3 linked regions of the Homo sapiens genome follow. The protein of the gene in region 1 purifies or fractionates together with the protein of each later gene. This does not show direct contact. Each region holds a gene or a part of one and is shown on either strand. Other genes may lie near its edges. The genes, in order: ALKBH3, PPP4R3A and ASCC3.

Region 1 (10,521 bases):
AGAGAACACGAAGGGGCAGTTTTCACATCACCTTCTGTCATGGGAGTTAGTGGTTCATGATCTCTGAGCTAGGCTTTTAAGTAGATGTATGAGTGCCTTTCAGCCAAAATGTAGGCATAGCAGGCATAGCTGTCACACATATTTACTACATGCATCGTCTATAATGTTTCCCTGAGTATACAGAGAACAAAATGTTTCAATATGGTGTATTTTTGGCCCACATTCAGAAATGGCTCACTTTAAATATGGAAGACATTTCCGGCTATTTTTTTAAAACCTAGCATAGTTAACTTTAGATAATGAGAATTAACAGATTCTAGGACCAAGTAGGAATGAGTTCTGTCATTTTTCTCCGACAATTGCCTGTTTCTGGGGGGCCGAATGTCACATCTGTAGCTTACAACATGTTTCATGGTTTTGTTTATTCTCCTTCACCAATGAAGGCACTAACACACTTGTTTTTTTAAAACAACCAAAGGCCTGGCATGGTAGCTCATCCCTGTAATATCAGCACTTTGGGAGGCTGAGGTGGGAGGATCATTTCAGCCCAGGAATTCGAAACCAGCCCAGGCAACATAGGGAGATCCCATCTCTACAAAAAATTTTTTAAAAAAGGAGCAAGGCATGGTGGTGTGTGCCTGTGGTCCCAGCTACTCGGGAGGCTGAGGTGGGAGGATCACTTGAGCCCAGAAGATGGAGGCTACAGTGAGTTTTGATTATGCCACTGCACTCCAGCCTGAGTGACAGAGTGACAGCCTGTTCCAAAAAAATAAAAAATAATAAACAACCAAAGACTATTAGCCTGCGACTTTTTCTAAGATATACAAGCCAATCTGCAAGCAGTCAAACAGCATAACAAACAGATTGATCATGGGCAAGAACATATATCTGATGCTAATTTGCTAAGATAAAAGAATAGTTTCTACTGACAATTTATCTACATCAGATGAAAACTGACAAGCATAAAAAGAGGAGTCAAAGCATCTCTCACCAACTTTGGACAAGAACATTTTAGACACAGATCAATATAAGAAGAATGTTTACTATCATTTAAATTGTTCTGGAATAATTACATGGTTTTAATAAATGGACTGTAAGCTCATCTACAGCACTAGCAGCTTTCATAGCATTGCTAGTAAAAAAAAAAAAAAAAAAAAGAGGCAATTAATGGCTTCTCAAAGAACCATGCTTCAATGACTCAGGAAAAATCCCTCTCTGTCTTTGCCTGAGAGGTTTAGCTTACTGTCTACAGATATCGGTGAAATAGGGCCAGGAAATCTACACAAGTCAAAGTTTAACATATGGATATCTTGTTGCATTTTCAATACTATCAGCAAATTCAGAAAGTCTTCTCAAAAGATCAAGTTTAAAGACATTTGAGATGGGAATATCCCAGACTACAGTTAAGACACTTATTGGGCCATTCTCTTCCAGATAGAAAAAACAGTGAGGAAAGATTCCAGGCTCTTCATTTCACTGTGGGCAACAATTACAGGAAGACAGCAAATTACTTACTCAATCACTCGTGGCTCAGGAGCTCTACGTACTACCTGCAAGGAAATAGGCGGATCTTACTTCTGGGATGTTCTTAATCCTCAAGGATACTGACTTACCATATCTTCCCATTTCTGGTCAAAATAAAGTTAAAAACTATCTCTTTTCTATTCCAACTTCTCACTAACCCACTAGAGACCCTTGTCTCCACTCTTCTTAAAACTACTTCACATTTGCTAGTAGACAGTAAAAGAAGATACAATTATTAATAGAATAAATTTTCCTAGCAGCCAGCAGCTCTGGAAAAATCTTGACAAGATTTTTTAAAATAGAAAATATGCTATAAAATAAGGAGTTTTAATAATTATTTATAGGGTTGTTACTATGGCAAGAAACCCAACTTTTTAACTTTTCCACATTATTAAAAAGTAAATCTTCACTGTTTCCTACATTTTTCCTCATGGGAAAAAAGGGCTAAAAATCAGGCATTTTATTGTAAAAACTGAAATTTTAATCCAATTCCAAAGATGGTGAAGTGCAATAGCACTGAAGACAGCACAGTTTTAGGACTGCTGGAGCTCAAATAACCAATGCAAGCAAGCTCTCATTATGGTGTAACCTCCTTGCCAAAAATACGGGAATAACATGTGACCATAAACTGGGAGCAGACTACGAAGAATCCCCAGACATAGAAAGGAACTGAAATATTTCTCATTTCATTATTATTATAGTTCTTCTGCTCTGCTATTAGTGAATTTATTCAGTCATTATTTATTTGAGTGTCTACTGTGTGAATATCACTTTTCTAAGCAAATTTTTATCACTATTGAAGAAAAAACCATGAATTTACCTGCTGAGGTTCTTTGAACACAAACTCTCTGTCAGAGAGATGATGCTCTTTGTTCTTCCAGGTCTGGCCAGGCTTCTGGTGGAGATGGCTCTTAGCAGTGGTAGCTGAAGCAAGAGAGGGGACAGCCTCAAACCAGGGGAAAGTCTGTTCTCAGCACCTTCTACTGAGCAAGGGCCAATAAAGCCCACTTGGAGATGATCTCTATGACATGTAGAAACTAACTGGTAAAGTCAACAGAAGATACTGAAAGGTTTGAGGGTGTGGACTAAATATGAGGAACATTAAAGACCCACCCTTAGCTCACCATCAACAAAATCGGACAAAATATCAGCCACATTTTAAACAATTCCTTGACGTCAATTGAAATGGAAGTCCATTATAAACCAAAAGGATATAAATAAAAGAGAATGAGAGTTGTCCATATCCACACACACACAAAATCCCTACAGATTCTTGCCTGGCTGAGCAATGGCCTGGCTTTTAACAGGGGCAGCCCAGGCTCCCTGAACTCGGGCTCGCCGTCTTTTTTCCTCCATGTTGACCAAAAAGGCTTCTGCTCCGAGCTTTCAGAAGATTTTGTTCCTGTTTCAAACTACTCCATGGTATCTGTTTATTAAAACAAAACAAAACAGTGCTTTTAGTTAGGATTGTGAACAATTACTCCTAAGGCATAATTAATTTCAGGCAGAAGACTCTCAATGGCAATAGAGCTTCCATGTAAAATCAGTTTATGTCATCACAACATTTCATTCAAGAAGCCTAGTCATTTGGGGCTGCTGGCTTTAGCATTCACCTTTTGTAATCTTACCATAGTACTTTTGTTTCTTTCACAAGAAAGTGCATTTTAAGAAATTCTAAAATTAGGACCTATTATAAACCACATTCCTCTTAATAGTCCCCAAGAGTAGAATATAAGGAAACTGTACTATTCCCATTTTCACCTACATGGACATTGAGAAATCGGCTAAGACTGTTTCCAAGCATATATTCCATTATCACTGGCTGCATCAAACTTCCCTGGAAGTTTGTTCAAAATACCTATGGCCCACCTTCAGAAAATCTGATTTAGGATGGATACAGGTATTTGTCTTTATAACAAGCAGTGTAAGATTTGACACAATGCAGGTATGTATGTGGACGGTAAAGTTCAATGATGCACCCAAAGCCACTCAGGAAATCAACAACAGACAGATTAACATTCAACTTATATTAAACTCCTGTCTCCAGCTAACGGATAAATCCACCTCATAATGGCTAATAATACTAATTTGACAGTTGTACCAGTAAAAGCTTAGCCTACAGCAAATGCAGAAGCACGTACAGCTACCAAAACAACAAGGAAATTCAAGCCACATGTTCCACATCTGTAATCTATTTCTTTATGCTTCTACCTAAGAAAGCTTCACACCTCAAGTTCTCAAAGGTAAAAGCTCGTTTTATATTAATAGCTTGCTTAGACTATAGATTCCCAGGTCCCATCTCCCACCTCTTCTGATTCAGTAGAGCTGAGCCAGGCCCAGGAATCTGTGTGTTTAACAAGTTCCCCCAGATGATAAGCATGTAATTCATTTCATTTAATAGGTGGAGAGACGCAGAGGCTGCCATCTGCCCAGAAGAGTTAATGACAATCAAATACCAATTCTCCAATCCCAGGAGCTCCCGTTTGACATGTTCTCTCAATTGAGGCCCTAAAAGCGTAACACAATTACCTACAGTCCCCGCAGAGGATACGACTTGCTCACCTTCTTGCTCCATTCACTGGGGAGCCATATGTTATTTGCCAGGGAACAATTGTTGAAAATAGATTCCAGAGCCCCATCCCAGATCTACTCAATTTGTAGAGTCCCAGAATTTGTTAACTAACGCCACCCTCAACCCAGGAATTCTTAATGCACATAAAGCTTGAGAACCAGTGCTGTAAAATACAAGGACTCTGGCGCCAGCCAGAACTCGCTTTGAATCCAGATCTGTCACTTCCCAGCTGCATGGCCCATGGCAAATGACTTCACCTTTCTGAGCCCCAGTTTTTCCTCAGTAAACAGGGCAGTCACTTTCCGCACGGTTGAGGTGCAGACTAAGCGAGCTCCGCAGGTGGAAGAGCTTGGTCGTGGATAAGGGCACTTCCTTTTCCTAATTTAGATCCTTCTCTTTAAGGAGGCCTAGAATGAGGCCCCGGAGGTCGCCCAGGAAGAGACTTCAGGGGTGGTACTCGCACCCCCAGCCCCGCGCACCCAGCAGTAAGTCAGGAAGGCGCACTTGCGGGCGGAGCCGGGCGCGCCCGTGCAAACCCGGTAGGACTTGGGGCAGCCCTCGCAGCCCCTGACCCACTCCGCAGTCTGTGATCGGAACCTTAAGAGTGAAGCACCGACTCCAGCAACTCCCAATCACAGGCCGCGGCATCAGGCACTTCCTCTCGACGTTACGCAGCGCCGCCACTACTTCCGGTGCGCAGTCCTCAGTCCGGGTAGTCCCACATCCCCCGCGCCTGGAGGGCCTAATCACCGAAGGTGCTGATGAGGGGATATGTGTTGCAGCGGACAGGGATTGAGAGTGCAGGGGAGCGGTGTGAAGGGGTCGGGGTTTGGCAAAGGTGGAAGTGAAGGCGTGTCTCCTACGTGAGTTCCTCGAAACTGGAGATGTCCAAGCATCGGCATCTTTGTGGCAGAAAGAGTGACCGGGTCCCTGTGGGACTAGATAAAGGGAGAGGAGTTTGGGGGACCTGGTTATAATGTGTTAGGCAAAAGGATTTGCATTTTATCCTAAAAACCACGGAGAGCCTGAAATGAGCCTCCTTTGTGTTCCTATTGCAGCCTGTGCACACCTCCGAACACAGCATTTACAGCAGGGCGTAGGACCACGCCTTAATTCACCTTGGCTCTCTCCAGTGCTAAGCAAATTTGCTTGAGTGAACAGACCTACATTTTGGCCCAGACACCACCACTTACTAGTTGTATAATCTAGGGCAAGTACTCTGCCTCTTTTTAAAATGGGTATCGCTCTTTTTGGGAGGATTAAGTGAGATAATGCATTTAAAGAATATAGCACAATGCCTGGAACACAACAAAAACTCAAAAAATGAAAAAGAGCTCACCCCATTTGAGCTCATGAGAAACATCTTTAAAATGGTCATGTTAAACCATGTACTTTACAGTATGAAAATAGCAAAAGTAGCACTGAATTGACTGTTTTATGCAAGTCATTCTCTAAGATCCGCCAAAGTATAGTCACTGTGGAAATCTTTAAAATAAGCCTGATATGAGTGTTTACCTTCAGGAAGCTCATTATAGGTACACCTCATCAATGTGTACCTATATTGTTGCTACTATCAAATCCATTTTCACAGCACTCATTATTATTTGTTATACTTTGTGACACTGAAGGAAAAAAATGATTTATCCTAGACCTGAAAGGAGAGAAAATGCTAAGGCCACACTACAGTTTTTTTCCCCCATCAACTAATTTGTCAATGTCTGCTTCTGGCTCAGGAACTTTGGCTGTATCTTCTAAAATATGTTATTTCTTTCTTTTCAATGATTATAGTTTTGGAACAGGAACAAAGAAGTCTGGATTGAGGAGTTCCTAAAAGTAGTGATTGACACCTCTTCAGCCTCTACGTAGTGTATTTCTCAAAGATCAATCCATGATTTACTTGCATCTGAAATTACTGCTTTTTTTTTGTTTAACAGAATCACCTGCGTTTTTAACAAGCACCCAAGTGATTCTGGTGCACAAAAATTTTGAAAACCTCTAGGACATATGTAGGATGACAAATTGTTCTGGTTTGTATGGGCCTGAGGAGTTTCCCAAGACACAGGACTTTAAGTGCTAAAGCCAGGACAGTCCTGGGCAAACTGAGATGGTTGGTTACCCTAGACGATGCGAGTATATAGTATTAGATGTTCTTAATGGTCTTGGCATCCTCATTAGGGTCTTGACTTTCTTATTTCTATTTGAAGTGTTTGAGTTTTTATCAGGAGGTGGTGGTAGAGACCATGGGAGAAGGAATGAAGGCGAAGTGTGTTGCCAATTATCAACCTATTGAGTCTCCATTCCAAACCCACCCTTCACTACCCTGTTTGCAATATTGGAAGGTTTCTCCCTTGCCTTTTGGTTCAATGGACAGTGAGCTTCATCAGTGGAGGGTACTGGAGGAACTTTAGAGGAGGAAGGGGCTCTTTTTTCTGGTTCCAGTGTGCTCCTCTCAGCTGGCTCTTTAGTGCACAGTGGCCCACAGTGTTTGACTACTCCCTGTGGGCTGAATTACCAGGTTAGTTTCTCTTCTGAAAGTTAAGGCATCAATTGGGAAGGAATGGAATCCCAAAATTTGAAATAAGCACTCTGCTTAGACCCAGATAACTGACAGTCTTGAACACCCATGGCACCCTGAGCCTTCCTTGGCAGTGGAAGTAGCTTGTCCTCCTAAGTCTGAGGAGACTAGTCATTCTTTGCTTGAAGACACTGCTAAGCCCTCAGCTGGGGCAGATGACTTCAAAAGGGAAGCTCATTCTCTACAAGACCCAGCAGAATTTACTTCCCCTTCTTCTGCCTCATTGCCACTAGACCCTAACTAGGTTCAAACCTCATTAATGCTCCAGGTAGGCTGCTACACACTATGATCTAGGATAAAACAGCTTGCACGCTGAAAGAACTATACTAATTACACGTACTTTGCTAATGTATGGAATGTGTGGAAGTGGATTCTAACTGTTTTAAACTAAGGAGGGCAGTATATAGTACTATATCAGGCCAATTATATGGAGGCATTTACTAGAGTGCATTTACAGACATTGTGTTGACTCATGCAACTGGAAATGACTCTAACAGCTTATTTGGTGGATTTATTGAAGATTTAACTCAACAGTAGTCTATGGTTAATCCTACTGAGATGCCAAGGCACGATGTAGAGGCGGGAACCCAAAGACTGAGAAGGGTAGAAATGTTGGACTGAATTTATCAAATGTGACCCTGACCCACGTGCAATAGACACAAACACAAAAACTATATCCTACAACAAGATCCAGAAGATGCTCCTTTTTCTAAAGCATTGAGAAATACTTTAGACAAGGGAGCACTTGCATCCTTGGAAAGCTCTGTGGTTGCTCTCCTTTGCAGGCCAGGTGTGATCATGGAAGATGCCACCATTGAGTTGGGTCCCCTGGTTTTACTGGAGATGATGAGGCCAAGTGGCAGCACTTAATTATTAAAGGTAAGGACATTGATCCAATACAGAAGCCAGGACATACCAGTAATCAGAATATGTTGGTCTATAAGGATCTTTGGTAGTGGCCATGGTGTCCCTAGGAATGAAACAGATGGGCAGCCTACTAGAGAATTGTTTGATCTATCTAACAGAAAAAAAGTCTATGTCTAGTAGCCAAAAACCTTACCTGGCCACACTGGATAGACATATCTCTCACCTAGTTTCCAGACAAGTCATATCACGACCCCAAACCTCTTGATTGACAGGGAAGCCACATCTCTTGGAGGAAGGACCCTGCACCATTGTCACAAGTATATACTGTAAATTTTCCTCCAAGTCTTTTTTTTGAGACAGAGTCTCGCTCTATCACCCAAGCTGAGAGCAGTGGCGTGGTCTCGGCTCACTACCAGCTCCGCCTCCTGGATTCATGCCATTCTCCTGCCTCAGCCTCCCGAGTAGCTGCCTGCCACCACGCTCGGCTAATTTTTTGTATTTTTAGTAGAGATGGGATTTCACCATGTTAGCCAGGATGGTCTCGATCTGACCTTGTGATCCACCCACCTCGGCCTCCCAAAGTGCTGAGATTACAGGCATGAGCCACCGCGCCCGGCCCAAGTCTTCATCCAAGTGAATGCAGCCATTTACTCAAATGGTTACACACTGGGGAAAAGTAAGTACCCAGGTATTTTAGGGTTTACTGGGCAATGGCTCTTAACTAATTCCTGGGAACCTAGAACACCTCTATGGCCCACGAATGAAAGTGAGGGCTTAATGATGTTCAAGTGATAGATGGAATCTTAGTTCAAGTTTGACTCACAATGGACCCAGTCATCCACAGATCCATCCAGTGGCTACTTCCCCAGTTCCTGAATGTATATGGATGCTCCCTTGACTTATGATGGGGTTCTATCCTGATAAACCCATTGTAAGTTGAAAATATCATAGGTCAAAATGCATTTGCTACACCCAACTTATGGAACATCACAGTTTAGCTTAGCCTGCCCTAAACATACTCAGAACACTCACATTAGCCTAAGCTGGGCAAAATAATCTAATGCAAAGCCTGTTTTATAATAAAGTGTTGATATATCATGTAATTTATTGAATACTGTACTGAAGTACAGTTTCTACTAAATGTGTACCACTCTTCCACTATCGTCAAGTCAAAAAATCAATGGAACCATCATAAGTCAGGGACCATCTATAGTTGGATTAGTTATATTTGGCAACTAGCAGAATCCCCAAATTGACTCTCTGACCCACAAAGTGAAGGCCAGTTGGTAGAAAAGGCTACCTGGAAACTCCAGGAACTTCCCCTCCATACCAAGATAGTAAATACTAGCAATACCACATTCCTGGAGGAATTGTAAAGATTAATGCCACAATCAAAGACTTGAAAGAATCAGATGATAATTCTATCACATTCTCATTCTCATTTAATTTACTGTTGGCCTGTGCAGAAGTCAAACGGATCTTGAAGAGTGATTGTCGGCTGTTGTAAATTTAATCAGGTAGTTACTCCATGACTCCAATGCAGCTGCTGTCCCACATGTGCTATCTTTACTGCGGCAATTAACATAACCTTTTGCCTTTGGTAGGCAGCTCTTGACCTGGCTAATGCCTTTTTCTCTATATTAATTTACAAGAAACTTTCTGCCTTGGCTGGGTGCGGTGGCTCAGGCCTGTAATCCCAGCACTTTGGGAGGCCAAGGCAGGCACATCGCCTGAGGTCAGGAGTTCAAGACCAGCCTGGCTAACACGGTGAAACCCCATCTCTACTAAAAATACAAAAAATTAGCCAGGCGTGGTGGTGGATGCCTGTAGTCCCAGCTACTTGGGAGGCTGAGGCAGGAGAATGGCGTGAACCCGGGAGGCAGAGCTTGCAGTGAGCCAAGATTGTGCCACTGCACTCCAGCCTGGGTGACAGAGCGAGATTCCATCTCAAAAAAAAAAAAATACAAAAAATTAGCCAGGTGTGGTGGTGCACACCTGTAGTCCCAGCTACTCGGGAGGCTGAGGCAGGAGAATTGCTTGAACTAGGGAGGCAGAGGTTGCAGTGAGCCGAGATCATGCCACTGCATTCCAGCCTGGGCGACAGAGTGAGACCCTGTCTCAAAAAAAAAAAAAGGAACATTCTGCATTTACTTGGCATGGCCAACAGTATACTCTCATAGTCTTGCCTCAGAGATACCTCAGTTCTTCTGCTGTCATACTATAGGTCCACCTCTCATCCTGACATCCTACAAAACATCACTCTAGACAACAATAATGACGACATTGTGCTGATTGGATATGGTGAACAGAAGGTAGAAAGTGTTTTAGATGCTTTAGTAAGACATGTGTGAGCTAGGTGTGGTGGCTCATACCTGTAATGTCATGCATGGGCCAATAGGCCCATGAACAGAGTAGTCATGGTGGCAGGGATGGAGGATATGCATGGGCTCAACAATTTGGACTTCCTTTTCTCAAAGCTGACCTGGCTAATGCTACTGCTGCATACCTAACCTACAAATAGCCAAGACCAATACTGAGCCCTCCATATGTCACCATTTGTCAGGCGACCGTCCAGCCACTTGTAGCAGTTTGATTACATTGGACCTTTTCCATCATAGAGAGGGTGGAGATTCATCTTCACTGGAATATATTCATATTCTGGATATGGGTTTATTTATCTTCCTTGTATGTACTGCTTTGGCCAGCACCACCATCTGTGAACCCACCAAATGTCTTATTCCCCTTCATGGTATTCCCTGATCAAGGAACTCATTTCACAGTAAAGGAAGTACATCAATGGGCTTAACTTCTTACCCATTGGAAACAGTTTGGCTAATTGAAAGATGGAGTGGCTTACTGAAGACTTAGTTATGGCCCCAATCAGGAGACAGCCCCTGAAAGGGTAGAGTTCTGTATTATTGGATGCAGTTTATACTTTGAATCAGAGATCAGAATATGGTGCTCTTTCTCCCTTAACCAGAAT
Region 2 (7,000 bases), on another chromosome or scaffold:
TGTGTGTGTGTGTGTGTGTATGGGTGCAAATAACAATTCTTTCTTTGTACTACACAAACTTATTTTTTTGTTGTTGAGATAGGGTCTCACTCTGTTGCTCAGGCTTGAGTGCGGTGGCATGATCATTGCTCACTGCAGACTCAAACTCCTGGGCTCAAGCGATTCTCCCAACTCAGCCTCCCACATGGCTGGGATTATAGGCATGCATCACCATACCTGGCTAATTTAAAAAAAAAAAAAAATCTTTTTTGAGACAGAATTTCACTCCTGTTGCCCAGGCTAGAGTGCAATGGTGTGATCTCAGCTCACTGCAACCTCCGCCTCCCAGATTCAAATGATTCTCTCGTCTCAGCCTCCCGAGTCTGGGATTACAGGCGTCCACCATCACGTTTAGCTAATTGTTGTATTTTTAGTAGAGACGGGGTTTCGCCATGTTGGCCAGGCTGGTCTTGAACTCTTGACCTCAGGTGATCCACCCGCCTTGGCCTCCCAAAGTGCTGGGATTGTAGGCGTGAGCTACCGCATCCAGCCCCAGGCTAGTCTTTAACTTCTGGGTTCAATCGATCCTCCTGCCTTGGCTTCCCAAAGTGGTGGGATTACAGGTATAAGCCACTAGGCCCAGCCTATGTAAACTTCTATTTCAGTTAGAATAGACCAATTCACACACTGGGATGACACAGTAAGAGCTTTTCTAATTTTGGGGGTGTTACAAACGCAAATTATTGTCTAGCTCTCAGAGACTTTGACTCAGGTTTTGTGCAGAATTCATGATACTGCACCCTAGGGGACTGTGATGCAAATACCCTAAAACACCAGATCAGAGAGATTGGGCATACTATAAGAAAAAAAAATCTACATTTTAATAAGCAATTATCAATAGACACTTAAAAAATTCCCATGAATCTTACATCATATTAAACACTTTCTTTACATGCCTGACCTCAGTTAATTTTCAGACAACTTTACAGGGTAGGCATTAATGTCACCATCCTTCAGATGGGGAAACCGAAGCTTTAAGAAGTTAAGGCTGCCCAACTCACATAGCTACTGTTATTAAGTGACAGACGGAGCTGAAACTCAAATTCACATGGGTTTAACTCACCCACAGGCACACCCCTTAGCAAAACGTGGCTTTTGGTAGGGATACATGCAGTTATAATTTGCCTCCTCTGCTACATTCCCTAGACCCTGAAACTGGACTTTTACCGTATCATTATCTGGGAATTTTACAAATTCGTTTTAAATTTTATTTTTTTGGTAGAGACAGGCCATAGCGCCTGGCCCACAATTCTCATTAGAATTTATATTCTGTGTTTGGTGACATTTCTCTTGGCTTTGTGCTTCACTCTTTCCTCTTCCAATCTGTTCTATTCTATGCAAAATTCATAGAGTAATAACCCCAAAGTTCAGCATTCAACCATTTCATTAATATTATCCTCCTATAGTTGAGTATGGTGGCTCACAACTGTAATCCCAACACTTTGCAAGGCTAAGGTGGGAGAATTGCTTGAAGCCAGGAGTTTGAGACCAGCCTGGGCAACAAAGTGAGATCCATTCTTTACAAAAAAATTTTTAAAAGGTGGCTATGGTAGCATGCATCTGTAGTCTTAGCTAATTGGAAGGCTGAGGTGGGAGGACGGCTCAAGCCCAGGAGTTCAAGGTTGCAATAAGCTATGGCTGTGCCACTGCACTCCAGCCTGGGCAACAGAGCAAGACCTCAACTTAAAAAAAAAAAAATCAGGCTGGGCCCAGTGGCTCACACCTGTAATCCCAGCACTTTGGGAGGCCAGGGCAGGCAGATTGCTTGAGCTCAGAGGTTTGAGGCCAGCCTGGGCAGTATGACAAACTCCATCTCTACAAAAAATACAAAAATTGGCTGGGGGTGGTGGTGCACACCTGTGGTCCCAGCTACTCAGGAGGCTGCAGTGGGAGGATTGTTTCAGCCAGGGAAGCGAAGGTGGAGGTTGCAGTCGCTGAGACTGCATTATTGCCCTACAGCCTGGGTGACAGAGCAAGACCCTGTATCCAAAAAATCATCCCCTCATACCATTTCTTCAAACTACATTTGTCACACTTACCTCTCCTACCCCAGATAGAGTAACCTTCTGGTCTCGTATTATTATTGTATATTATAATCTCTTAAAATAACTCACAATACTTAACTTTATACATTAACAAAATTAAAACTCAATGTATGTATTTAAAAGGAGCAAATTGTTTTCGCTGCATCTCTTGAAATATGAAAAAAGGAATGATCTAACTCACCTGCAACATGCCAACAATCTCTACCTTATTGAAAAAGATAAAAGAGTGAAGTGTTGATAACATGTTTTCTTCAAAGACCGAAGGAGTTGGTAGAACCATATCTTGTATATACTGAACTCTGTATGTCTGATGAATTTTTTGTTTCAGCTCAGGATCTGATATGGGAATCACTTCTTTAAACTTGGCTGTTTTTGTTAGAAATTCCCTGTGTTTTCGTGGTTGTGATAAAGCAGGATCATATTCTAAACATCCAATGACGTCCATTATACATTCTTCAGAGAACATAACTTCAAAAAGAGCAGTTCGATTCAAGAGAAAGATGCCTTTGATAATTTCATACAAGTGGTGCAGTCCTTCAATATTTTCCAAATCTTCACACACATGAAAAAGCTCCAGGAGCTTTTTAATATAACCCTCATTTTCTAGTGCCAGTGCAAGTTTTTCACGACGAAGAGGTGAAGGTAAAGATGATGCCACAAGTTCTGCAATTTCTTCAAGGCGACTTAATTCACAAGATGGCAATTCTAAGCCTGGCGATGACATATCATCAAAACGCTCCTCTTCAGATTCATCCACAAGGTCCTGAGTGATGTCCACGGAAGGGTCCTTTCCTTGAACCTATGAAAAAAAATTTAATTGCTGACAAAATAGATAACAGGTGACCAGCAAACCTAAATGCTACTCTAAGATGAATACTAGAAATGTTGTAAGAAACCTATAATGGTCATTTTCAAGACAAAACTGCCTACTTTTCTACATTACATTTCTCCAAATATGTATACTTTCAATTTTAAGGAAGTTAGTCAAAGTTCAAAAACAGAATGAGCTTCCCTATAAAGTATGAGGTCTGCTGGCAAGAACAACTTTCTAGGACAGGCTAAACTAAGTGAGACTGTTACGAAACAGCCCTCTGCAGACCCACAACATAGAAGCCTGATGCTAAAACAGCCACTAACATCTCATATCCCTGGCCCTCTTTTCCAGCAGACCAAGGCAAGTCTCAGAAACAGTCCTAGGACTGTGCTAAAGGACACTGCCACCACCAAACTCTTCAATATTTAACTCTGAGGTGAAGACCAAATAAACACCAAATATCATAATGTTATGATCACAGAAAATATATATAATTATAAGCAAAAAGGAAAATATTTAACATCAATTGATTGTAGAAACCAAGGGCCAAAGAGCATGAACAAACTGGCTTTGGACCAAAGTGAGTCACTGATCTTCTATAAATACTGACAGCCCAAACACAGGATTTAAAAAACACTAGGCAGAATACAAGTGTACCTACATAAAAATGAAGCCACATATAAAGTAAATACAACCTATATGTAGTAGAGTTATTCCCAAAAAAGGTCTGCTGAAGGTTAAGTAACCAAACCACGAAAATATTTTCCTTTCTACACACCCTAACCTGTAGCCTTCATGATCCCTCTAGGAGCCTGAAAATCTGTCATAAAACCTAATTTTATGCCACTGGAGGGGCTCTTATTATAAAAAGGTAACTTATATTGACTACATTTTAAAGTAAGGCATTTTTTTTGGTAACAAAAGGTCAAGGATAAACTTTGAAATGAAACAAATTTTGTTATCTTGGCCCTAGAATTTGGGACAGTGAACACTAAAGCAAGTAGAAGGCCAAGTAGAATGGTAAAGCAATGAAAAAAATTAGACCTTATATGGAAAAGCCAAGAAACTTAAATTGCTTAGCGTAATGAACAGATGCACTGATAGATACTAGAAAAGATGACGACCTGGAATACTTTTCTTGAAATGTGCTGCAAGGTGATATGGTCTTGACCTCAACCAAGTGGACAGCAGCACTGAAAGGAGGCAAGTCACATTCATGGCTTGTACCTGCATGGTCTCACACTGGCTCTGAATTTGTTAATTATGTAAGCTCTCATTATAGTTTTAAGTTCCTGATACCCAAACTATGACTTTATCCACAGAAAAATGTTAGATTTTGATTAGCAAACCAAATGAAAAGAGAGGAGTGCCCTTATTATATTAAGAATGCCATCTTTTTGAGTTGAGCAAATTGGTGAACATGGTTCAAGAAATAGAAAAACATTTAATATCTCAGAGAGCAAAATGTAATGACTTTCTTGGATCTAGAAAATGATTGAGAAGTTCAGACAGAACCCATAAAAAGAGTGACTGAGAAATGACACCTTGAACATAAACTATATAAAAGTTGAAAGGGAGTATCAGAAAAGAATATTAAAGCAGCTAGTGATAAAATTATTAAGATGATGAAAAACTTTATGATATTAAAGACCAAACAAAGGTAAAGATCAGACAATATTAAAGGAGAGCCAGGCATGACAATGACAAAGTGAGTTCAGGTTTGAGTTACACATTGGCATAAAGGAAGACTGTATCCAGAGTGGAAGTGTTTGATTCAGAAAGATGAGAGAGGAGAACAAGATTTGTCTGAATAACAGATGCTATTAACATAGCCTGAACTCATTAATGTCACCTCTCTCTCTTTGGGATAACACTACAAGACAAAATCTAGAGACATATGCTATAAATATAATTGTTGGATGGAAAGCAAAGAAAAACTAAAAAGATGGATGGTATTCAGATATAAATGTTAGTCCTTTCATGTTTCAGAGAAGGAAAGGGACAGCTTAACAGACAGGTTAATTTATGAAAAGCACAGCGAAGTAGAATATATTCTTGAAATAAATTCCATTAAGTCAAGGAAAAACTGTGCTAAGGACACTATATCTTCTATGAATGCTATAGCTGTCAAACTTTAGGGTGCATCAGAATCACCAAAAGCAGGGGGCGACAAACCATAGCCAAATTTGGTCTGCCACCTGTTTTTGTAAATAAAAGTTTTACTAGAAGACAGCCCCTCCATTCATTTATGTGCTGTCTATGACTACTTCCGAACTAGAACAGCAGAGGTGACCTAGCTGTGACAGAGACTATATGGCCTGCAAAGCCTTAAATATTTACTATCTTGTTTTTTACAGAGAAAAGTCTGGCCTATAGGGCTTGTGAAAACAGAATTCCTAAGAAAGGATTTTAAAAAACAATTATTGGACCCTACTTGCAGTTTTTGATCCAGTAGGTCTGGGGTCGGCGGGAGGGGTGCTAGTCTCAGAATTTGCATTTCTATCAGTTCCCAGGTCATGCTTGTGCTGCTGGTTTGAGGGCCACATTCAAAGGAATTAAGGAATCTGGTGAAGATTATTCTCTAGATAAAGTAAACATGGAGATGGAGAAACCTTCTCTAGAAAGAAATGGCCTAAGAAGTGTATAACAAGAGCCAACAGCATTAGCTACTAGAGCACATACAAATGCAAATTCACAAAAGATTGTGATTATGTCACTAGGGAAACTCCAGAATAAATTAAGAACATTCGAGCCTAGAGGCACGGTAAGGCTGAATAGTCAGTCAACAGCCATACTGCTCAAGACAAGTACAAGGGTGGGTTTTCTTTCAAAAGCCACAAGAAGTTATGAACAAAGAGTGATGTAATCAGACTTGCATTTTTAAAAAGATCACCTAATTGCTCTAGCTAAAATGTTGATTTAGGAAGATCAGTCAAGACAAAACCAATAAACCAGGCAAGAAATGATGGTGGCTTGGAAAACTACAAAAGTAAAAATGAAGATAAGCCAATGGATCTAGATTTATTATCGAGGGACTGAATGGATAAAAGCGATGATGGAAGGATAAACAAGATCCACAAGTTTCTGATTTCAGCAACTGCATGGCACTTAGAAGGAGATGGGATAGATATATGTGAGAAGATTATGTTTGGTTTTGGAGTACTAAATTTGAGATGCTAGTGAACATGAAAAGAGAAAGTTTCAAAAAGGCAGGTGGATATAAAACACTGGAGTTCAGCAAAGGTATGAGCTAGAGAGTTTAGTGTCAATAAATTACACCTTCCTTTAAATCAAGTTCAAAGACAGCAGTGAATTTAAAAGATCAATTTGAAATTTATTTAAACTCTTGGGCATTAGTTGAAAGCATGGCAAAAAACTAAACACTTAAAGAAAGCATGTTGATTTTTTTATTTAAAAAATTACCTGACATATTTTCTCCCAAATTTCATCACATCCAGCTTTTTCTTGAAAGCTAAGGGCCAAGTCATAATTTTCTGCTTCAGACCACACAATCAGAGTGTCCTTTGGAGACATAAAAGGAGTCTGAATGATTAACATACACTATCACAAACGAAAATGAACAAACAAAAGGAAATAAAACTGTGCTCATTTTTACTTTTTGCAACACTAATACTGGCAATTATCAATGTCTTTCTTTTTCAAAACAATGACTTTTTACACTTCACTTCCCCCAATCTATAAAACAAAAATAATGTTTCCTTAAGGACAACTTAAACCAATATATGAAATATATTCTTTTCATGCATTGCAAAAGATAAAAACAAAACATTATACCAATTATACCAACGCTATCCGAGCATACTGACTTACATTTTATGCTGTCATTAAAATGTCCAAAGAGGAAATCTAAGCATAAAATAGCTAGGGCATGTTAGGACGATAGGGTTAATAAAACTCCTTCTCTCTTCCCTCTATTGTCAGCAGGTGTTTTTCACCAGGGGCCTCTGAGGTCCATGAAGCCCTTGAAATTATTGGCTACATTTGTAGTACGTGAGCATTTACCTATACATAGGTTTTTTTGTTTTTTTTTTTAAACTTAGCAAAGTGCTATGGTTCAAGAAGCAGCAAACTCCTAGCACCT
Region 3 (10,617 bases), on another chromosome or scaffold:
TGCTTGCTCTCTAGACTTGCTGCACAGCCATCCTGCAGAGATTTGTCCTTACCTTTCTCTAGCATCAGCATAACTTTTTGTCCTTATTTTGTTGGATTGTATGGCCTAGTGACATTCCAAAAGATCACCCAGGAGAAAAATATTCTACATCCTTGTTAGTCTGAAAATATCTTTATTTTACTCTCATAGTTAATTGATAATTTGAATGAGTATAGACTTGTAGACTGAAAAACATCTACAACTACAATTTTGAAAATATTCTGTCATGTCTTCAGGTATGCAGTGATGCTGATAGCATCAGTCCCTATTCCTTTGTTGATTATAAGTCTTTTATGTTTAGGAACTTTGGGGATTTCTTCTTCTTCATAATTTTTATTTGTGGCATTACATGATAATATCTCCAGGCATGAGTTTTTTAATCTATTTTTCAATACCCTGAGTCTACTCAAATCTGAATAGTTATTTTCTTCTCTGCTCTAAAAAAAAAAAACTTATAATTTTCTCACTCTCCCTCCCCTTTTTTTTAAAAATCTTTCTCATCTACTGGTTGAGCCTATTGGATTGGCTCTCCACGACATTCTTATGTTTTCTTTCTTATTTTCTCTCTGCTATGTATACTATATTCTTATAAGATTTCTTCGATTTTATCTCCAGTACTTCTCTTGAGTTTTTAAGTTAACAAATTTTTAATGTCTGGTAGCTCTTTTTGTTCTATCATTGCTCCTTTTTCAAAGTATCTTATTCATATCTTGTAGACATAATATGTTCTGAATTCCATATTAATTCGGGTGCTTCTTTAAAATCTTTTATTTATGCTTCCTTGCCTTCTTTAGAGTTAGTTTTTCTATGTTTTTCTTTGTATTTTTCTCTCATGATGCTGATTTTCCTTATTTGCCTGTTAATTCTTCATGTTTGTTCATATATATATATATATATATATATATATATATGTATATAAAATTGGTAGTTGATGCAGTTTTCTTTTTGTAGGTAAGAAGTCTGCCAGTTCTCTCTCTCTCCTATGTAGGAATTGTGAATACGTGGCTGGGTTAGGTAGGACAGGGCCAGGAATGCCAAATATGAAGTTTCACTTTACATGAGTAGGCAATTAGCTTATTCTCAGGATGCTGGCCCTGAATGCTTGAATAAGAATGTTTTTCCTTTGTGTCATCAACCTAAAAGTCTTCACTTTTCTGTACTAGTTATTCAATTAATTTGGAGAAGATTTGGGGGGTCAGTTTTGGTCTTTTTGTCTGGTGGCAGATATTAATATCTTTTGCTTGCTCTCAGTCTATATGTCTGAGAAAGCGAAATGTGTATGGTGATAGATTCAATTGTGCCATATTTTATCCCCATTTTCAGCCCTTATTCTCACTTCTGCCCTATCCTGTGTAGCTTCTCCACTATATTTTTTAGGCTATGGTTTTGGTCAAATCACTACTATTTGCTTTGTATCCCAACACATTTTTGAAATTTCATTTGCTTCTCTTGACATCATCTACTTTTTTCTACTCATGTAAGTGCATGCATACAGGCACACATCATCTTTACTCCTTCACTTATTCTTCATTTTTTCTGTTTCTTCATTTTTATTTCTATGGTGTGTAGGAAAGGATAGTAGGCAAATGATATGCCGAGTTCACCATATTGAACAGTAATTCAAGAAAAACCCTTTATATATTGTAAGCACATATTTTGAAACCTGGGTAAAACATATTGCAGGATTCTCCGAAGCTGATTGTCCCTTGGCCCATATGCCCACCTATACAACATTCTTATTCAAAGGGAAATGAAATTACTTTGGGAGAAGCTCACATTTTTTGAGTTGTTTGGTACTTTTAAAAAATCATCTTACTAGTTAAGAAAGAGGAAAGAAATGGTGGTTGAGGAGGCAAACAACACTGTCTGCCATGGTAGTAATCTAACTTTTTTCTTTTCTAATATCATTTATTTAAAAGAGTAGAAAAACATTTTAGAATTGAGTCTTTTATTAATCAGCATTCCTCAAAGGTTAAGCATCAACTTCAGAGCAGGAACTGCACTGGAGTGCAGTAAAGATGGAATTTTAAGACTCGGTGTTGCAGGATAAGGCAGGGGTGAAAAAGGGCAGGGAAGAAGTGACTGACAATAGATAAAATAAGAAAGGCCTAGAAGCTGAGGCTATGGCACACTGGTGAGCTAGGCAGACCTAGTGCACACACATACTGAAGGAGGTATCCAGAGACTGATGGGCTGGAAATGGTTCTGAAACTTGGCAACCCATCCTTACAAACCATGAAGTGGCAAATCTGATAATGAAAGGCTAACATACTAAGGATAATGAAACATAGAAATGAAAAAAGTCAAAAGCATGAATGATTTTGTTGAGCTGTAAGAAATAGGTTGGAAACACTTCCACCTTGAAATTTTCTGTTCTTGAGACAATTTTGAGATAATTTAAGGCACTCTTTGCAAAATAATCATGTTACACACATACAGAAGACACACACAAACATATATAATTTTACCTAAATGTGTTCATATTATGTATAGATTGTGTTGCAAGCTCTTTCATACAACTGTACATTTTGGACATATTACCATATCAAGCAATACAGATTCACATTATACTTTTTTAATGCCTCTATATTTAGAGATGTATTACAATTTATTTAAATAAATCCAATATTGAGCCTTTTTTTGGTATGATACTTTTTTTTTTTAAGACAGTGTTTCACTGTTACCCAGGCTAGAGTGCAAGGGTGCGATAATGGCTCACTGTAGCCTTGACCTCCCAGCTTAAGTGATCCTCCTGCCTTAGCCTCCTGAGCAGCTGGGACTATAGGTGCATGCCACCACACCCAGCTAATTTTCATTTTTTTTTTTTTTTTTTTTTTTTTTAGAGAAAGGGTTTTGTCATGTTGCACAGGCTGGTCTCAAACTCCTGGGCTCAAGCAATTCACCTGCTTCAGCCTCCCAAAGTACTGGGATTACAGCTGTGAGCCACCACACCCAGCCATATGATATATTTTTAAATGCAATGTGGAGTTTTGTTTTGTTTTTCAATTAGAGATGGGGTCTTGCTCTGTTGCCCAGACTGGAGCTGAATGGCATGATCATAGCTCACTGTAGCCTCAAACTCCTGGCCTCAAGAGAGCCTCCAAATTCAGTCTCCTTGGTAACTAGGACTACAGGTATGTACCATCAAGTCTGACTATTTTTTTTCTATTTTTTGTAGAGATGGGGGTCTTCCTATGTTGCCCAGGCTGCTTTTGAACTTCTGGCTTTAAGTGATCCTCCTGCCTCAGCTTCCCAAAGTACTGGGATTACAGGGGTGAGCCACTGCGCCTAGCCCACTGCAATGAGTTTTAATTGGTTTCCCAGCCATGCACTAATTTCAACCCACCCTACCCAATATTGCCAAAGTAATCTCCCAATCCCATTTTGTGACTGCCAAACACTGACTGCCTATTATACTCAATTCTTTAAATTTAAAATTGAGTCTCCTTATAGACTAGTTTGTTTACATTTTAACTTTGTCACTACCTTCTATTAACAATGTTCCATTACAGATAAATAGGTTTTCATTATCTAGAATGCAGTTATAGTCTTGTTTCTTGTCTTTGCTCATGGCATACTTTCTGGACGGTCTTTCTCTTTGTCATCAGGGCCATTTTCATTAGGTTGTCTTTCCACTAACATTTGGGGAAGCTGGGCTTGATGGCAGGTACCTGTAGTCCTAGCTACTTGAGAGGATGAAGCAGAAGAATCATTGAGCCCAGGAGTTCACGGCTGTTGTGCACAATGATCATGCTTGTGAATACCCAGTGCACTTCTGCTTGCGCAATACAGCAAGACCCCATCTCTTGAAAAAAAAAATGGGGAAACCCTGGGGACTATAAAGAGGACAAAGATAGCTCTTAGAGTTCAATGAAGTAAGACCATCCCTCAGTGTCCACAGGGGATTGGTTCCAGGACACTCCCACATACCAAAACCCCAGGATGCTCAAGTCCTTACACACAATGGTATAGTATTTGCATACAAACTATGCACATTGTCCCATATACCTTAAACCATCTCTAGGTTACTTATAATACCTAATACAATGGGAAATGCTATGTAAACAGTTGTTACATCCATATTGTTAAGGAAATAATGACAAGAAAAAAAGAGTCTGTGCGTGTTCAATGCAGACATTACCATTCTTTTTTTTTTTTTTTTTCAATTGTTTTTGTTCCAAAGTTGGTTGACACATATACAGAAGCCATGGATACAGAGGGCTAACTGAATTTCCTTCCAGGCCAGGACTATGTAATACAAATATGATGCAAGCCACCTATGTAATTAAAAATTTTCTAGAAGTCACATAAAAAGTAAAAATAAAGTTGAAATTAATTTTAACATATTTTATTTGATCCATTATATATTATTTCAACATGTAATCGACATAAGAATTACAATATTTTACATTTGTTTTCTAAGTCTTTGAAATCTGGTGTACATTTTGGACTCATTGCATGTCTCAGTTTGGACAAGCCACATTTCAAATGTCAAGAGACGTATTTAACTGGTGGCTACCCCAATGGATAGGGCAGTTCTAGGTAGTCTATTTTCAGTTCCTCTCTTCTCCCTTAAGCCTCTGGAACTGTGATGGGAATAATCTGTCATGTGAATTCCTAGCACTTATCAGCACCTCTCATTATCACTTGGCCTCCTTGCATTATTTATTTTTGTGATGCATTTGTCTTGTCTCATGAACTAACTTGTAAACTCTATGAAGTCCAGGACCAAAGACACATGTAATCTCAAGACTGGAAATATCTTTAACAAAACCATCAACTAATTATTCTGTTGATGTGTGGCTCCCCTGTACCAAGTCCCTATTAAGTGAGCTTCAGAATCTCCTTGAAGCAAAATTCTGTGGTTGAGGTATTCACACATGCTAAGGTAGGCAATTCTTTGGGTCGTGCTACAAGGGCATCTTCTTTTCAGGATCTTAAATCTGTTCCCTGAAGTTTGCATCACATGAAACAAATCAACTTCACATGATAGGTCATTTCATATTTGGAGAGAGTCCAGTAGTTTTCTCTCTTCTAGGTGAGTCCTGGAAGGTTTAATCAATCCTTCTTCACTTGCCCTGTTTTTGAGTTCTCGTCATCATTTTGCTCTTCCCTGATATAATGCCAGCTTGATTAAAGTCTTCAAATGCTGAACACAGCACTTCAGAGGTGGTCTGACCAGTAAAGACAATAACTGGATCACTATTGGCTGCCTCTACAAAACAGTTCTACCAGGCATCGGGGCACATTACCTTGAGGAAGCGGGAATGGCAGAAGAGAGCCACAACAAACATATTAACTCATACTATCTTTGCATTGTTGGCTTTTAGTCTAGAACTCTTTGCAGATAAACCACACAATTCTTTAGGTTAGTTTTTCTTCGTATCTTCCTATCTTTTCAATCGAGTTAGGGAATCTTTGGGCTTTCTGTTTTTGGAGGAGGTCTTCTGACCGAAGAGCCGACTTGCAGAGATCACTTTGAGGGAACTAAGCTGAGAATCCAGAAAGCTTATGGAAAACAGGCCTTGACACCAGAGAACCATGTATACTCTCTAGCAGCCAGAGGGCTTTGGCTGAAAACGACGATAGCAACTACCTGTTTCTTCATTCAAATTGCTCTCCTTTCCTTTACCTTTAATAGGAATTATTTCCTCCACATATTTACCTTACAGAGAAGGGCGGGGAGAAGACGCGGCAGACTGAAGTAAATGCAGGGAAAAAACTCACAGGTAGAGAGGTAGAGACGGCAGGCCTGGCCCGTTGCGGGCAGCCAGGGTAAAGTGGAGCGTCCCGCTCCCGCCCTGGGGCGCATCCTCGCCGCCGCCGGGACCTTCCGCCTCTGCTCCTCCGAACCCAGCGGACTAGAGGCTGGAGGCGGGAGGCGGAGCGGCGCGCGCACGCGGGCGGGGCAGAGGGCCCGGAGTCGACGAGTCGACGTGCCGACGTTGGCGCTGCAGCGGGGCGGTGACGTGTAGGCCGGCGCCAGCTCCACTCTGTCCCTCCTCGCCGGGTCTGTGCGTCTTTGCGTCTGTCTGTCTGACTGATGGTCCTCACACGCGGTTCCCTGTGACTGGGCGCGACCCCGGCAAGCGCGGCTTGGAGGGCGGACGGGGCGCGGCGATACAGCTGCCCGCTCGCATCTTTGGCCCTGCGCTCAGCTCCTCACCCGGCGTGGGAAGTTAAAGTAAAACCGAAAGGGAAGAAGGCGCGGTGGCAGGAGCTGACAGAGTGATGGGAAACGCGTGAGCCAGGCCGAGAGGTGAGGAGGTGGAGGTGGAGGTGGGAGGACGAGAAGGGTCGCCGCGGCCAGGGGAGCTGGCTGGAGGCGGGGACGGCGAGGCGGGCTACGCGACCCGCCAGAGATTCTCTTCCTGCCTCCGGGGCAAGTCCCGACCTGTCATCCTTTTCAGTGGCATGAGGTCGAGTCCGGGGTCTCGCAACAATACCGCCCATTCCTAGAGTTTGTAGGTGGGGTTGGGGATAGAAAACTTAACCTAAGCTACATATTGTCCAAGTGTTAAGCCACAACGTGACCAGATGAGGTTTTTCTGTCCCATGCATGGGTAATTTGTTTTCTTTTTTTCTGTTACAAAGCCTTGATAACTTCGTTTTCTTCACGTAGATTTGGGGAAAGAAATCTTCCTCATATTTTTCCCCCAACACACTGGAAAGTAAATAGGTAGCTGACCGTGATGGATTGTGGGTGAATTTCGCAATCAAGGAGCCTATAATGTCATTTTGAAATAAATAAATGTGTATGTGGGTGCTAGGGAGGTTTTGTGAGTACTGGGCAGTCATTTCAAATAGGTTTCTTATAAATTAACTTACTCATGGAATGCAGTGTGCTAATGGTATTTGCTATTCTTTGGTTTAAAAGAAGCATAATTCTAGGGGCTGGTAAAAGTTTGATGTGTTGTCACTTGTGCATTCAAACTCATGGTTACATTTTCTTTCTTTCCCTAGGTTAGGTGAGATTGACAGCCATTTTCTCCATCACCAGATTTTATGTTTCATAGATTGAAATCCTTTTTCTGATTCTCAAAGTTCTCAAATGTTGAGAATTAAGCTTTTGGTTTTACTATGGATTGTGCTCCAGTTTATGTTGTCTCTTTTTTTTAATGATGGTTATAATAGTCTTGCATGAGAAAAATGATCCTTAAAGATGCTCTTAAGCTTAGGCTAAATAATCCTATTTATATGAGAAATTAATTTTTCATGGTTCAGCTTTCTTGATCCCTGCTTAACAGTTTTTTGTCATTCATTCATTCAAGTCTTCCTATGTGTCAAACGCTGGGCTAGGCCTAGGAGAGCAAGAGAGAGACAGTCTCTGTGCTCATGAACTTTCTATAATCCAGCAGCCTCCTTTTAAGACAGAATCTTGACTAGGGTTCTTTCTCATGCCATGGATCTGTAGTTAACCAAAACAAAGCTTTTAAAAGAAAAAGTTATTGTCAATGTATATATGTAATTGGCATTGAAAGGGGAACAGATGATCTTGCTTTAACAGCATGATTTGATATTGCCTTTGATCAAAAAGTAGTATATGTACCAGTGGTTTGCCATTTCAGAAGAGTAAGTTTTTCTTTTTCAAAGCTTGTTTAAATATAAAGTTCACAGTTCTACCTCAGTTTCTACCTCAAAAAAAATAAATAAATAAAAAGCTTTTTCTTTTGAGGTAGAAATCAGTTTCTTTCCAGTCTTCACTTTGGTCTGATTGATCTCCTGTGTATCTCTGGAACCCCTAGGCTCAAGCAGTCCTCCTGCATCGGCCTCCCAAAGTGCTGGGATTACGGGCCCCATTTTGCCTTTTTGTATGCTAATGAATTGACTAAGAATTTTGTCTTAGCTAGCTGGCTGCTCCTAGTAGCTTCAGGATGGGGGCTGGTTACCAGAAAGGTCAAGGAATTATTAGAAGGTTGGGACTTTCATCCCCACCCCCTAACTGCTTAGGGAGGTGAGAGAGGGGCTGAAGATTAAGTTGATCACCAGTGGCCAAAGGGTTTAATCAATTATGCCTATGTAGTGAAGCCTCCATAAAAACTCAAAATGACAGGGTTCATAAAGCTTCTGAAAGCTGAACATGTGGAGATTCCTTGAGGTGGTGTGCCCAGGAAGTACTTGGAAGTTCTGCATGGAAATTCCCTTCCCTTATAAATTACCCTATCCTATGTATCTGTTCATCTGTATCCTTTGTAATATCCTTTATAATAAATTGGTAAACGTGTTTCCCTGAGTTCTGTGAACCACTCTAGCAAATTAACCGAACCCAAGGAGGGGGGTCATGTAATCCCCAATTTATAGCTGGTCAGTCAGAAGTACAGATAAAAAAGCCTGGAGCTTGTAATTGGCATCAGAAGTGGTGGGCAGTCTTGTGGGATTGGGCCTTCAATCTGTGGGATATGACAGTATCTCTAGATAGTGTCAGAAATGAATTGGAGAACACTCATCTGATGTCTGCTGCAGAAGTGATTGTTTGCTTGGTGCATGGGGAGAAACTCATACACATTTTGTCACAGACATCTTCTGTGTTGATGGTTGTCGTGTGAGAGCAGAGGAAAAACGGTTTGAGTTTTTTCCACTCTCACAAGAGGGCAGGCGTAAATTCCTTCAGTCTGCCTCCCAGAGGCTCATGGATTAGGGTGGAATGAGAATTTTGTCTTTCAGACATAATCTGTGCTAGGCCCTTTTCCACTGGACTTTCGTGGGAAGAGTTATAATACATACTGCCTAATATGTGCTGGGTCTGTTCCACGTTTTCTTGTGCTCGTTTCATCTTTGTGGGATATTCTGGAATTTTCTTTCTGACTATGCTTGTCCTTATCTGGTGTTAAAATATTTTTTTTTATTTGTTTTCCCAAGGACATTTAAAGGAAAAGCCTTCCTTACCCTGTGCTAAAAGTAAAATTAACACAACTTTGGGGGGGAATATTCTGAATATAAAGACTAATCTGCTTTATAGTTATGAGCCTGTCCAGGATTTTTTTCCCCCACCTTTGAATGGGAAACCTAGTTAGAGGATAAGTTAGAGAATAAGAGCCCCATAGAAATTTGGTTGTTTTTAACCATTATATATTTTGTATTGTGTGAAAAGTGTTTATGTGTTTTATTATTTTTGTCATGCTTTCTCTGTTCTGCATGCTTCAGATGTGTTTCCTAACTTGATTGAGAACTATTCAGGAGCAATTGCTTCTTGCTTAAGAATGAGTTAGCATCTAAAGTGAACTTGTTAGGTGGAAACTGTGAATAGCTAAGATTACCTTTGAGAATCCCTTAAAAGGACATCAAGTTGGCATAACATGCTGTCTCTCAGCATGTCCTACACAGCCATGTTTTTCATCCTGACTTGGAATGTATCACAGTTTCTTTAGATGAACTCCCAGTGAAAAAGTTGCTCTGTGTTTGGTCACCACCTTGTATGTTTTTTAAAAAAAGAGAAAAAGTGTTAAAAACTAGAATCATGCAATGCAGCAAGATGCTCACATTTTGAGATGCATGTGGTGATTGAAACAGACTAAAAGAGCAAGATTCTTGTTGCCCATCCCCCATTCACTCTGGAGCAGATATTCAATACCTGAAATGGTAAGCAGAATCTCTAGTAATTATTGTTTTTGTCTGTCTCTGCCTTCCTTTTTTTGGCCTACAGTGTTTGGTAGATTCAAGAAAGTTAAATGTGCCTAGACTCTGCTGTATGAACCAATTGATGGTAATAAGGTTTAATACAAGTAAGAAATTAAATTATCTTTAGGATTTATCATGAAAAAATCACCCCCTTTTGAAATCGCATAATGGAGGATTATAAATATGTGTCGACGATGGTTATTTTCTGAGTTCTGATCTTGCTAATGTTAACAATATCACAACTCAATTTTTAAAAAAGGCACAATAAAATATAAATATTCTTATTCACTGTTTAATATTTATTCACTGTTCATTTTTCAAGGTGTGGTTTGTGGGTACAAGATTCTATTTTAAGTACTGAAATCTTAAATTCTAATTTTACTCCATTTACAACCTACTCCTTCATGTCAGTGTTTTTATCCCTTAATCTGCAGTATATCACTTTGACTATTTTTGTCCCTTTAATAATTCCCTAGTATCCATAATTGCCAGTAACTAAGTGCTGACTTTAAACTTATTAGGAAATATAGTTTGGCTGTTTTGGAGATCTTTTCATATTTTTATAACGAAAAAATACAGTAACTATCTTTTCCTAAAGTTGCTATCAAGCAGTCAGACCATCTTTAGAGTTTAGAAACACAGGTTTGGTTTAAGAAGAATAAACATTACAATTTTAAATGTAGTACTTCAGAATAGTGTGTACTGGAATTCTAGCTCACTGATTATTGGTTAATATCATCTTGCAAAAGGAAATATGCTACCATCAGTTTAGTTTTCTCCTTATTTGGAATGTAAAAAAGGACAGTTACATTTTTAAGACTTTCTTTTTACCTGTACGTATGTTTAATTAACAATTTAAAGATTTGTTCAGATAGCCACAGCCAGTACTTCTGACGAACAGAAGTAGGCTTTTAGGGTTTCAATCCTTTAGAAATTATATTTGTTCTGGGGCATTAAATA

What was found.
Region 2: the proteins of ALKBH3 (region 1) and PPP4R3A purify together in Homo sapiens (affinity purification with mass spectrometry; 3 studies listed by BioGRID and IntAct, with this or other methods). This does not show direct contact.
Region 3: the proteins of ALKBH3 (region 1) and ASCC3 purify together in Homo sapiens (affinity purification with mass spectrometry; 4 studies listed by BioGRID and IntAct, with this or other methods). This does not show direct contact.

What each region holds. Positions count from the first base shown.
Region 1 is NC_000011.10:43,875,012-43,885,532, reverse strand, and holds the start of ALKBH3 (alpha-ketoglutarate-dependent dioxygenase alkB homolog 3), read right to left. Parts: upstream 4,703-10,521; 5' UTR 4,354-4,702; intron 2,951-4,353; 5' UTR 2,881-2,950; coding exon 2,802-2,880; intron 2,449-2,801; coding exon 2,345-2,448; intron 1,551-2,344; coding exon 1,516-1,550; intron 1-1,515. UniProt on the Homo sapiens protein: Dioxygenase that mediates demethylation of DNA and RNA containing 1-methyladenosine (m1A). Repairs alkylated DNA containing 1-methyladenosine (m1A) and 3-methylcytosine (m3C) by oxidative demethylation. Has a strong preference for single-stranded DNA.
Region 2 is NC_000014.9:91,479,311-91,486,310, forward strand, and holds part of PPP4R3A (serine/threonine-protein phosphatase 4 regulatory subunit 3A), read right to left. Parts: intron 6,421-7,000; coding exon 6,322-6,420; intron 2,884-6,321; coding exon 2,266-2,883; intron 1-2,265. UniProt on the Homo sapiens protein: Regulatory subunit of serine/threonine-protein phosphatase 4. May regulate the activity of PPP4C at centrosomal microtubule organizing centers.
Region 3 is NC_000006.12:100,876,742-100,887,358, reverse strand, and holds the start of ASCC3 (activating signal cointegrator 1 complex subunit 3), read left to right. Parts: upstream 1-6,029; 5' UTR 6,030-6,298; intron 6,299-10,617. UniProt on the Homo sapiens protein: ATPase involved both in DNA repair and rescue of stalled ribosomes. 3'-5' DNA helicase involved in repair of alkylated DNA: promotes DNA unwinding to generate single-stranded substrate needed for ALKBH3, enabling ALKBH3 to process alkylated N3-methylcytosine (3mC) within double-stranded regions.